Linked DNA regions of Homo sapiens. The protein of the gene in region 3 purifies or fractionates together with the protein of the main gene of each other region. This does not show direct contact. Each region holds a gene or a part of one and is shown on either strand. Other genes may lie near its edges.

What was found.
Region 1: the proteins of GPSM1 (region 3) and KLHL18 purify together in Homo sapiens (affinity purification with mass spectrometry; 2 studies listed by BioGRID and IntAct, with this or other methods). This does not show direct contact.
Region 2: the proteins of GPSM1 (region 3) and DACH1 purify together in Homo sapiens (affinity purification with mass spectrometry; 2 studies listed by BioGRID and IntAct, with this or other methods). This does not show direct contact.

Annotation. Positions count from the first base shown.
Region 1 is NC_000003.12:47,285,916-47,289,559, reverse strand, and holds part of KLHL18 (kelch-like protein 18), read right to left. Parts: intron 2,325-3,644; exon of another isoform or gene 2,212-2,324; intron 1-2,211. UniProt on the Homo sapiens protein: Substrate-specific adapter of a BCR (BTB-CUL3-RBX1) E3 ubiquitin-protein ligase complex required for mitotic progression and cytokinesis.
Region 2 is NC_000013.11:71,864,342-71,868,434, forward strand, and holds the start of DACH1 (dachshund homolog 1), read right to left. Parts: upstream 2,864-4,093; 5' UTR 2,429-2,863; coding exon 1,581-2,428; intron 1-1,580. UniProt on the Homo sapiens protein: Transcription factor that is involved in regulation of organogenesis. Seems to be a regulator of SIX1, SIX6 and probably SIX5.
Region 3 is NC_000009.12:136,355,012-136,358,655, reverse strand, and holds part of GPSM1 (G-protein-signaling modulator 1), read right to left. Parts: exon of another isoform or gene 3,634-3,644; intron 2,967-3,633; coding exon 2,810-2,966; intron 2,315-2,809; coding exon 2,106-2,314; intron 643-2,105; coding exon 436-642; 3' UTR 1-435. UniProt on the Homo sapiens protein: Guanine nucleotide dissociation inhibitor (GDI) which functions as a receptor-independent activator of heterotrimeric G-protein signaling.

The DNA.
Region 1 (3,644 bases), on a different chromosome or scaffold from region 3:
AAATGGTATGCATCAACAAGCCCTTACTTCATTTCCTCATATCCTTCTCCACCTACTCTTTCATCACAAAGCCAGTGGTGACAACAAATTAGGCAAGATTCCAGATTCAAATGTGTAGCTCTTGAAGCCAATTTCGTGAAAACTGTGTGCCTACATTTAGTGGGTAACACAAGGAAATATTCTAATACTGTACCTTTCACCCATGGAAAAAACATTTCCTTCTGAGGGCTAAATTATCAGAGCCAGGTTCGAAACCTCAGCAGGGGCCTTGGGAAAATGCTGAGAAGACTAATGCCAGCAGATCTTTCAGGAACCATTTATCAGCGGTTGCAAAATAAAGGGTGTGTGTCTATATAGGGAGCTCCTCTCTCCTTTAAGCTTATGGCCCTGTGAATAATACTCAGGTTTGGTGACCTCATTATGCTGTCACTCAAAAAGAAAATAAATGTGTGAGATAAAGGGAGAGCAGAAATATATGAATTTCAATGCCTTACAGAAGCATAGGGGAAAAAATAAATATATAAAATCTGGCTCCAAATCTCATGAATAAGAAGAAAAACTCATTAAACCTAGCAAGTGTGCCCAACTGGCTAGACCCAGATGAATCAGACAATGCTTCCTGAGCCTTGGGCTCCTGGCAGCCCAGAGCAAAGGACACGAAACTCAACGCTGGGAAGAAGGGATGAGAGCGTCCATGGACACAAATCTCTCTACCTAGGCCAAGCCTTATGCCAACAAGTCTTGCACTACAATCCTCATAACTTTTAAGATAAAATGATTTGCCAAGGAAAAGGACCATGGGCTTTTTCTCATAACAGGTTCAAGCCATGGGAGATACAGAATGTGATTTTTTTTAAATGAATATGTTACTCTTTTCTGTCATGCCTCTATCTCACTATCCGACAGGCTTCCAGTGAATTTAAATTTCAAATATTTTCCAAAAGGAAATTAAGCCTAGGTTCAAGTGTTGGCAGTTAATTTTGAGAATGTGGCATGCCTGCTAATATTTATTTTCACGTTCTCCCTAAAATTCAGGAAGATAGAAAAGATGACACGCCATTAAGGATGAATACAGTAGACCTGAGGTAGATTAATTCACGTGGTAGCAGCTGAAATCAGTTCATTTACCGTCAGTGACAGAAGATGCAACAGGAGAGCATGAGAGAACACCTGACCCTGAATATGGAGACGAAGAGTCTAGTCCCAGTGCTGCTTAACTCAACCTGTGACCTTGAGTAAGTCCCTTCCCTTTCTGGGCTTGGGTCTTCATTTGTAAAGAGCAGGCTAATGAATTAGTGCAGTGGTTGGCAAAGTCTTTTTTTTTTTTTTTTTTTTTTTTGGAGACAGAGTCTCACTCTGTCCCCAGGCTGGAGTGCAGTGGCGTGATCTTGGCTCACTGCAACCTCCGCCTCCCAGGTTCAAGCGATTCTGCTGCCTCAGCCTCCTGAGTGGCTGGGACTACAGGCCCGCGCCAGCATGTCCAGCTAATTTTTGTATTTTTAGTAGAGATGGGGTTTCACCATGTTGGCATGGATGTTCTTGATCTCTTGATCTCGTGATCTGCCCATCTCGGCCTCCCACAGTGCTGGGATCAGGCGTGAGCCACTGTGTCCTGCCAGCAAAGTCATTTAAGGCAATGAACATTTTGTCCAGATAAAATCATTCAAAGTTCAACAGAAGCTAAAACAAATTCAAAATGGCAGGTTGAACACATGAATTTATCTCCACTCCTTCTAGAAACTCCATTAAGTTATTATTAATAAATATATACTACTGGCCGGGCGTGGTGGCTGATGCCTGTAATCCCAACACTTTGGGAGGCCGAGGCAGGCAGATCACTTGAGGTCATAAGTTTGAGACCATCCTGGCCAACATGGTAAAACCCTGTCTCTACAAAAATTCAAAAATTAGCCATGCATGGTGGTATGTAGCTATAATCCCAGCTACTCAAGAGGCTGAGGCAGGAGAATCGCTTGAACCTGGGAGGCGGAGGTTGCAGTGAGCCAAGATTGCGCTACTGCCCTTCAGCCTGGACAACAGAGCAAGACTCTGTCTCAAAAAAAAGAGAGAAAAAAAAATACACACACACACACACACACACACACACTACTGAGCATTTACTACATGATTATTTGAAGTACATTAACTAATTGAATCCTCAACACTCAAGTAGGTGGTGATGTGCATTTTACAGACGAGACAGAGAATCACCAGTGTTTAAGGAAGCTGCTCATTTTCACAGCTAACAAGTGGCAGACCCAGAACTCAAACGTAGGCAGTGTGGCTGCAGAGTCTGTGTGATACCGCCTTTCGGACTGATGATCAAGGAACAGCAAAGCTCTGAAGGAAAAAGATGCAGAGAGAGACAGCACATTAGAAGGGTCAACAAAATTTTAGAAGGGTCAACAAAATTTTAGAAGAAGAAAAGAAGACACATGAGTAGTAACTGACTTAGAGGATACTGAGTATTGCGGATGGCAAGCCACTGAAGAATCCCCTCCAAAATGGAACCACTGGAGGTACCAGTTTCCTCTGAAGTTGTGAGCAAGAAGAAGGGCCGAAATCAGGAAGTACTGGTCCCCCTCCCCAGACAAGCAACTGCAGAAGACTGGAGGTTTACTCTTCAGACAGGATGAACAAGAGCCTCTGGATCTGGGTAACCAGGGCACCACAGAAGACAAGGAAGTGGTACCATTTAGGGGGATTAAGTGAAAGTCTGCATACAGAAGGGAGAACCTCCAGACCTCTCCTACCATAAGGCTCCCAAAATAACAGCCAGGCTTATACCACCTAGGAAGAAGCCTGGAGGAAGATCTACGGACTTTGAACACATCCCACAGAAAAACGACAGGTCCATCACCCTACAACCATGGCTCTCAGAACGTGGTCCCAGACTAACAGTAGCATCACAGGGGAACCTGTCAGAAATATGAGTTTTCAGATCCATGCCAGACCTAATGAATCAGAAATTCTGGGTGAGGTCCAACAACCAGCGTTTTAACAAGGCCACCAGGTGATTCTGACGTCCACTGAAGTTTAAGAACCACTGCCTGACAGGGAGGCCCACCAGTCAAGAAAACATCTCACACCCAAAAGCTTCCAACCAGTTTTTCAGTGTCTGTTTACTTGAAAAACACTGTGGAGTCACCAGAAAACTGAAGGAAGACTTTGACAAGAAAGAGAGACAAAATAGATTTCCCAGGACAGCTCTGGTGGCAAGTAGTGAAATGTGCAGAGCCTGGTTTGCATGCTCTTTCCCCGGTCCCACCATTATATTGCTACAGAGCTACTCCTTGGGCTCTACAATAAAGTTTTCAAAATCAGTGAAGTAAATGCTCTCTACAGTCCCGTCCAGCTCTAGCCCATGCGTTTATACTAGTCCTTCCCACTGAAGGCTTTTTATTAAAGAGAGAAAAAAATAAATATACTGGTCCTTATGTTCTAGATCCCTGAAGCTAACACAGCAATTCGGGCTGACCGTCTCAGTTGAAACTACGTCTGATTCTTTTTTTTTTTTTTTGAGACAGGGTCTTACTCTGTTGCCCAGGCTGGAGTGCAGTGGCACGATCTCGGCTCACTGCAGCCTCTGCCTCCCAGGCTCAAGTGATCCTCCCACCTCAGCCTCCTGAGCAGCTAAGAAAGAC
Region 2 (4,093 bases), on a different chromosome or scaffold from region 3:
TCGAATCTTTTTCGTTTCACAGCCTTCCCGGGCACTAACAGAGAAGAAGTCTTTCTCCATGGAAAAAAGAGCTAGCGCTTTTTCAACCCAATGTCCTTCTGGTCTCCTTGCTACACTTCCTTTCCACCTAAGTTTCCCTATCTCTGCGGGAGCACACACTAACTCCGCTCCTTCTCTCAATCTTCAAACTTATTTGGAGGGTACCGAAGTTTCTGCGCAAATTTTGCGCGCAGTTCCCACGTGCCCGCTTCAGGTCTTCAACTTTCCCTATTTTCTTTCTCCCGGAATCTCACTCTGAACTTTTGCCTCTGCGCTTCCTTGCAGAGAACCGTGGGGACAAAGCGGCGCTGTGAAAGGGGGTGGAATGATCATCTCTACCCCGAAACTGACAAGTTGCCCCACTCCCGCCCCCTCTTGGTAGATCCTCCCCCACTGAGCGTTCATTAGCATAAAACTGGTCTGGCTGGGGACCGGTCCCGCCGCCTCCTCCGTGCGCGCGCTTTGCTGGGCTGGGGAAGCCAAGGCACAGAGTATCAGGGCCGCTGAGCATCCCAGTGCAAAGTGTGCACCTGCTCGCTGCTTAAGCTACTAACCTTTAAGAAAAGAAAAGAGAGAGAAAGACAGAAAGAAAACACACTTTGGAGAGAAAGAGACAGAGAACTCGAAAGAGAGATCGAGAGAGAGCGCGCTCCGTGGCTTTCCTTCCTAATCTCTCCAGTTCAGCTTCCATTGAGTCTCGGGCAATCGGTCACCTCCCCCTACCGAAGAAAACCTGCTGGTTGCCCTCGCATCTGCCCCGGGGCCACCGTACCCCTTTATTTCCTTTGCACACGCACTCGCTCACACGCGGACACACGCACACATGCGCGAACACACAGACCCCTCCCCTCGGCTGGCTTCCCCTCCGGGCTTCGGAGCTCAAGTCCCCGGAGCCCATCCCCCGGGATGGACCCGGTCTCTCAGCTTCGCGGGTCATTTCCCTCCCGACCTCAAAGTGCCCTCCTCGGGTGCTGGTCCGCTCCCTCGCCTTTCCCAGCGGGGCCCTCACCCGGAGCGCGTCTCCCCGCTCCCCGAGCCCTGCGGAGCAGGTCACGACCTCCCCCCGCCCCCGGGACACCGCTCGGCGCCACAGATCAGCCCTGTCGGTGCCGGGAGGCTGGCCGTGGAACCCAGGTCCTGGGGAGCGCACGAACGCGGACAGCAGCGCTGAGAGGGGTCTCCAGGCGCCCGCGCGCCCGGGGCAGGGGGCTGTGGCTCCAGCAAAGGCGCCGTCCTCCTCCCTCTCGTCCCCTCCGCCCCGAGGCTCGGCTTTCCCACATCCCACAGCAGCCCATCCCCGGGACCCAGAGGGCAAGGGGAGGACCGGGCCGAAGAGCGAGGTCTGGGCAGGGTGAGGTGCCAACTTCTCAGGGGGTCGGGCGCGGCTGGCGAGCCCCGAGCAGGGAGAGGAGAGGGCCGCGCTCGCCGGGGCGCGCGGCTCGCGGGCGCGCAGAGCGAGCGGCGCCGGGAAAGGAGCGAGGGCAGGCGAGCAGGCTGGTGGGAAGGGGCGCGGGCGGCGGGGGCTATCCCCCCCGACTCACCTTGCGTTGGTGCAGTCATTGTAGAGGGTCTCGAAGTCCTTCCTGGAGATGAGTTTGCAGCGGTTCACTCCTGGCTGGATGGCGCCCAGTCCCCTCAGGATGCGAACTTGTTCCACATTGCACACCACCGGCGTGATCTCCAGCCGCTTCAGCTTGGTGTAGACCGTATGCAAGCCCCCCACCAAGTGCTTCAGGAACAGGTCGAAAGCCTGGGGCAGGCAGATCAGCTCGCAGCCCTCCACCGTGAAGGAAGCCACTTTGGCCCCCCTCAGATCCACCATTTTGCACTCATTATTCTGAGGGGTGTTTTCCACTGGGGACGGGGTTGAGTACACGGGTTTCCCGGGGAGGGGGCCGCAGCTGCTGCTGCTACTGCTGCTGCTGCTACTACTGCTGCTGCTGCTGCTGCTGCTACTGCTGCTGCTGCTGCTGCCGGTGCTGGCGTTGATGGGGGTGCTGGAAGCGACGCCGCCGCCAGCGCTGATGCCGCCGCCGCCGCCGCCGCTGCCGTTGCTCGCGGCCGCCAGGTTGGGGTTGCAGTTGCTGCCACCGCCGCCGCCGCCACCGCCGCCTCCGTTGCCGCTGCTGCCGCCGCCGCCTCCGCTGCCGCCGCCGCCGCCGCCGCCGCCGGTAGAGGTGACTGTGGCCGCCGCCGCCGCCGCCGAAGCGATGGGCTCCGGGCGGAACAGAGTTGGCCCAGAGGACGCCGGGGGTCCGATGGAAGGAGCCGGAGACGAAGTCGCCGAAGAGGTGGAGGTGGTGGTGCCAGAGGAGGAAGCAGACGTGGAGATTGGGGGTTGAGGGGGGACCAGCTGGGTCGGAGGGATCAAAGCCGCCGGCACTGCCATGGTCACATATAAGGGGAAACAGACGGAGGAGAAGCGAGAGGAAAAGTTGCCACACACCCCCGGGAGGGGAAGGGGAAAAAAGGGGGGAGAAGGAGCGAGGGGGGCAACAACAACTCCGGGAGAGAACGAGAAGGAGAAAGGGAGAGAAGGGGGAGAAAAGGAGGTGAAGGTAATAAAGAGCGAGCGCAAGAGGGGCGAGCACGAGAGGCGCTCTGGAGAGGAACGCACAAAAGTGTCCCGCAAGTCGAAATGCGAGTCCTCTCCGGGGGCTGGGATCGAGGGCTGGTTTGGGGGTGGGGGTGGGGCGGGGAGGGTCGGCTGTTGTTGTGTGGGTCTCGCTCTAGCACAAAGTTAAGGATGAAGGTGAAAAGGAGGAGGTTTGAAGGACTTGGGCTCTCCCTGGCAAGTACATTGATCAAAGATTGAGAGGGGAATGACAGAGAGAAAATGAGCTGAAAAGTGCAGGCTGCCGGCTGGACGAGTTGTTGTTGTCACACGGTGCAGAGGGGAGGAGCTCCGGAAACTTGAAATACCCTTTGAAGCCGCAAAAACCTCACTCACTAGTATTAACCCAAATTATCCAACCAGGAACTCGGAGCAGAGACTCCGAGAGCGCGAGACACTGGAGAGGGAGCGTGCGAGGAAAGGAGGAGGGGAGGGGGAGGATACGGAAAGAAACTGTGGGAGGGACGGAGAGGAAAAGCCGGGGACACAGAAGTGGCGATCGGAAAAGGAGAGGGAGATCATCTACTTCTCTTCTACTACTACCGTTAGATTGCATGTCTCACATTCCATTTCGTCCGCGGGGACTGGTAATTTTTTCCAAAGCTTCTAAACAATCGCCCGCCAACTTAAAGAGGAGCCTGAGCGCGCCGAGCTCTCTCCTTCCAGGATTTAGGATCCATCTCCACGCGTTTTGGCAATGAGCTAGAAACGAAAACACAGCCCCCACTTCACGATTATTCAGAAATTATTTTGAGGAAAATTCACATGTAAGCAAAGCGTAATGTTCTTTTGCATCTGATTGTTTATTTCTCTACTAAATTATTTATTTATATAAAGATAGTGAAAATTCCAGGACAGTTTTCAAGTGGTGAGAAGAAAGTCAGTCCGAAATCGCTTAAGAATAATGGAAAGCTCTGTATTCAATTCCATATTTCCTAATAGGTTGTGGAAAGAAATGCTTGCCTTGATGTGGATGATTTAGAATAACTTCACTGTCTCCCCAAAAGCCAGTCAGAAATACCTGTTAAACCTAGAGCTATCAAGGAGATAAGGTATCCTTGAAGATTTAGAAAGTGGAAAAAGGGTTTTCTTACCCAAAACTCTATAATTAATTCACCTGTCTTACACAGTAACCAACTATCCTCATGTCCTTTAAGACCCAAAGCCAATTGCTAATGTGTTTTTTGGACAACACAATAGTTTTTTTTTTTTTTTTTTCATGTTTGAAAAGTGCTGCTGTAGTTTTGGAAAGTCCTTTTCAATTTGTCAGTAAATATATGTTTTGTAAATAATGGGAAGAACAAAAACAAAGCTCACTAGTTGACTTGTAAAGACTTGGGTAGCTGTGCTTAAAACAACATGAGGCTGAGTTTAGACTGACTCTATTCCTCCTTTCCTTCCTCTTTCCTTTTCTTTTCTTTTCTAACTTGTTGCACTGAA
Region 3 (3,644 bases):
AGACCAGCTCTGGGGGGACAGAACATGGCCCTGTCCTTGGTGGCCCCAAGAGGCGGCTCAGAGACACCTTTGGGGAGGGTGGGGGAGACAGCAGGGTTTCACATTTGGCAGGGCAGGGCAGAACGGGAAGGGCTTGGGGGAGAGGATGCGGGAGTCTGACAGCACCAGGTCGGGGCCGACATGCCGAAGGCCCCGTCCGGCCTGCGGCAGGGGCAGAAGGGAGGAAGCTGAGGGCCATGGGGGCCAGCCCGGGATGGAAGCACGCCCTCCCACCACGGGCAGCTTGGCCTGAGCCTGTCGCCCTGGGTCGGGGAGGCCGTGGGGCTGCATGCCCAGTGCCTGTCCTCGGCAATGGCCTCGGGAGGACGTGGCTGTGACTGTGAGACCGGCGTCCAGGAGTGGGGGCAGGGTGGGCCTGGCGGTGGGCACAGGGCCTTAGCTCGCACCAGGCTGGCACTGCTGCTGGGGCTCGGGCGGGCCGCCTGCCCCCTGCTCCGGGCCCCCGGCGAGGTCCACCCGCTGCTCGTCCATGCGCTTAGCCTGCACCCTCTGAATGAGGCTGAAGAAGTCCTCGTCCGGCATGGTAGGGCCCCGGGGCAGTACGTCAGGTGGCGGGCAGCGCTGGTCATCGATCCTGGAGGACTGGGTGGACACAGTGCAGTTGGCGGCCTCACCCCCCCAGCCCCAGTGGTCCGGGGCTGGTCAGCAGCGGTGGTTCCAGAGGCCAGCGTGCACTGTTCACGGGCTTCCCCCTGTCCACCCAGGAAATTGGTTCTGGGGCCTGCCTCGCTCTGGGGTCTTGTGCTGGGAGCCCGGGCCCTGAGCGCAGTCTTCTGGTGGCCCCGCCACCAACCCGCAGGAGCCCAGGGCAGGCCCGCCCAGGAAAAGCAGGTCCAGCGATTCCCACTGGGCATGGGTGTGCCAGGCCCAGGAGACAGTGGCTAGGGCGGCGTTGGATGCCTGCTCCCCACATCTGCTGATCCCCAGGGACGGGCATGCGTGGCCGTCCCTCTGCCCAGCCCTGGAAACCAGCACAGCCTGGGACTGACCCTGGCAGGCCTGAGGTCTCAGCTTCCAGAGCCCGAAGTGTGGCGCCCCCCAGGGCTTCCCCTTGTGTCAGGTGGCTGACCCCGTGGGCCTCGCCTGCTCCAGTGTGCAGGCCAGGGGGCCAAGGGGTTGTCTGGGCTTCTCTGAAGCGCCTGGAGCAGGAGGGACGGGAGCTGGCGCAGGCATGCGTGTGGATGGGGGACTCTGGGCCTCTTGGGTGGGGCTGGTTTGGAGGTGGCTGGTCGGACGCCTGGCCCCGGGCCGAGGTTTCCTCTCTGCTGTGGGGAGGACGGCAGACCTGGAAACGTGCTGGCTTGGTTCGTGGTGGGCCAAGCGGCCTCCACCCCCAGCCTGTTCCCAAGTCTACGGACCCTGAACCCCTTCCCAGCAATGGCTGCACCCCACAGGGATGGCGAGACCCCCAGAGTTTGAGGTCCTAGTTGGGATAGCAGTTGGCTCAGCAGTCTCCACTCCGGCCACCCTACCTGGCTCACCCCCACACAGATGAGGAGGTCATTCCTGGCGTGGCTGCCAGGCTGGAGCCCCGGCCCTGGCTCTGCCCTCTGGGGCTGGACCCTCCGCCCATGCCGTCCACTGTGTGGTCCCTGGATGGTCCCTGTTTTTGTCCCACCAGCCAGCTGGCAGCCCTGGATCCCCCTGCCCTCCCCACTCTGGGGGTGCTATCTGGCCCGTGTTTTCCCTGCCGGGTGTGGAGGGCTGGTGGGGAATCCCTGAGGCCATGAGCTCCAGGACCTGTGACCCCCCAGCCCCCACCCCGAGTTCCTGCATGGCAGGGGGGTGGCACAGCCTGGGAGTGTCCTGGGGTTGCCAGGGGGGGTCTCTGGTGTCTCCAGCAGCCCGGGGTTCCCAGGAGTAGGGCTTCAGGCTCAGACACCCCTGGTCATGTGGTGACACTGGCTGAGTCCCCCAGGAGTCCCTCAAACATGACCGGAGATGGCAGAACCAGCGCCCACCTCACCCCTCAGGACACAAGTTGCCTCCACACACGTGGATGGCAAAGGGGCCGCGAGCCACGCCCGCCCAGGGCCGCAGCCCACCTGGTACTTGATGAGCATGTTGAAGAAGTCGTCCCCCGGCTCCTGGGGCTCGCCGTGGCCTCGGAGGTGCCCTGCATTGCTGTGGGTGATTCGCAGCCCCGGCAGGCTGCCCACGCTGGCCCGCTGGTCGTCCAGCCGGCGGCTCTGGGAGCTGGCGATGAGGTCGAAGAATTCCTCGGTCTGGGGCGAGGCCGTCATCGAGGGCTGGGCTGCGGGGGGCCAGAGGGTGAGACCTGGGACCCAGTGCGGGGTCAAGCCCGAGGCTCGGGCTGCGGCCACAGTGAGCTCTGACCTCTGAGCCCAGCCCAGCCCACTGTGCTGCTGGGGCCATGGCTCCTGGGGGAGTCTCCGCTGACCGGCCTAGGCAGCTCTCAGCTGCTCCCCCTGCTGTGGCTCCCACGCCCACCTCAGGGGCTTCCAGGGGGTGACAGGAGGAGACAGGAGGAGAACGCCAGTCCCCCACGCCCTGCCCCCTCCCTGAGACTGCCCCTGCAGCCTGAGTGTGTCCCGGAGGGCGGGCTGATGACACGCTTCCCGGGATGCTGCTCTGTGGGGGCTGCGGAGGGCGCCCTCAGTGACAGGGTGCTCTGCAGCTGGCCTGCTGGTCTGCCCCCGAAAACTCCTCACTGGAAGCAGGACGGGAGCCCTGGTCCTGGCCCCTGCAGACAAGCCCAAGGGAGGGCCCGGCTGAGGGGGGCACTCACCGATCCTGTCCTCCAGGGTGGGGGCGGCCGTGGCCTCGGCAGCCCCGGCCTGGCCATCGTCCAGGGGACAACGCTGGTCGTCCATGCGGCTGCTCTGGAACTTGGTCAACAGGTCAAAGAAGCACTCCTCGTCCGAAGACGGGGCCCTCGGGATGCTCTGGGGAGGGAGTGGGGTCACCGCAGCCAAAGCTAGCCCCGCAGACCCCCAGACGAGACCGGGGGCTGCTTGCCCAGGCCACACACACTTCTGAGACCCTGGCCAAGATCGGGACTCTAACCTGCCCCCTGTCGGCTACCCCTCCCCCAGAACGTGTCACCCACCCTCGGCACCCGGCTACCCCTCCCCCAGGACGTGTCACCCACCCTCGGCACCCGGCTACCCCTCCCCCAGGACGTGTCACCCACCCTCGGCACCCGGCTACCCCTCCCCCAGGACGTGTCACCCACCCTCGGCACCCGGCTACCCCTCCCCCAGGACGTGTCACCCACCCTCGGCACCCGGCTACCCCTCCCCCAGGACGTGTCACCCACCCTCGGCACCCGGCTACCCCTCCCCCAGGACGTGTCACCCACCCTCGGCACCCGGCTACCCCTCCCCCAGGACGTGTCACCCACCCTCGGCACCCGGCTACCCCTCCCCCAGGACGTGTCACCCACCCTCGGCACCCGGCTACCCCTCCCCCAGGACGTGTCACCCACCCTCAGCACCCGGCTACCCCTACCCCAGGACGTGTCACCACCCTCGGCACCCGGCTACCCCTCTCCCAGGATGTGTCATCCACCCTCGGCACCCGGCTACCCCTCCCCCAGGACGTGTCACTCACCCTCGGCACCC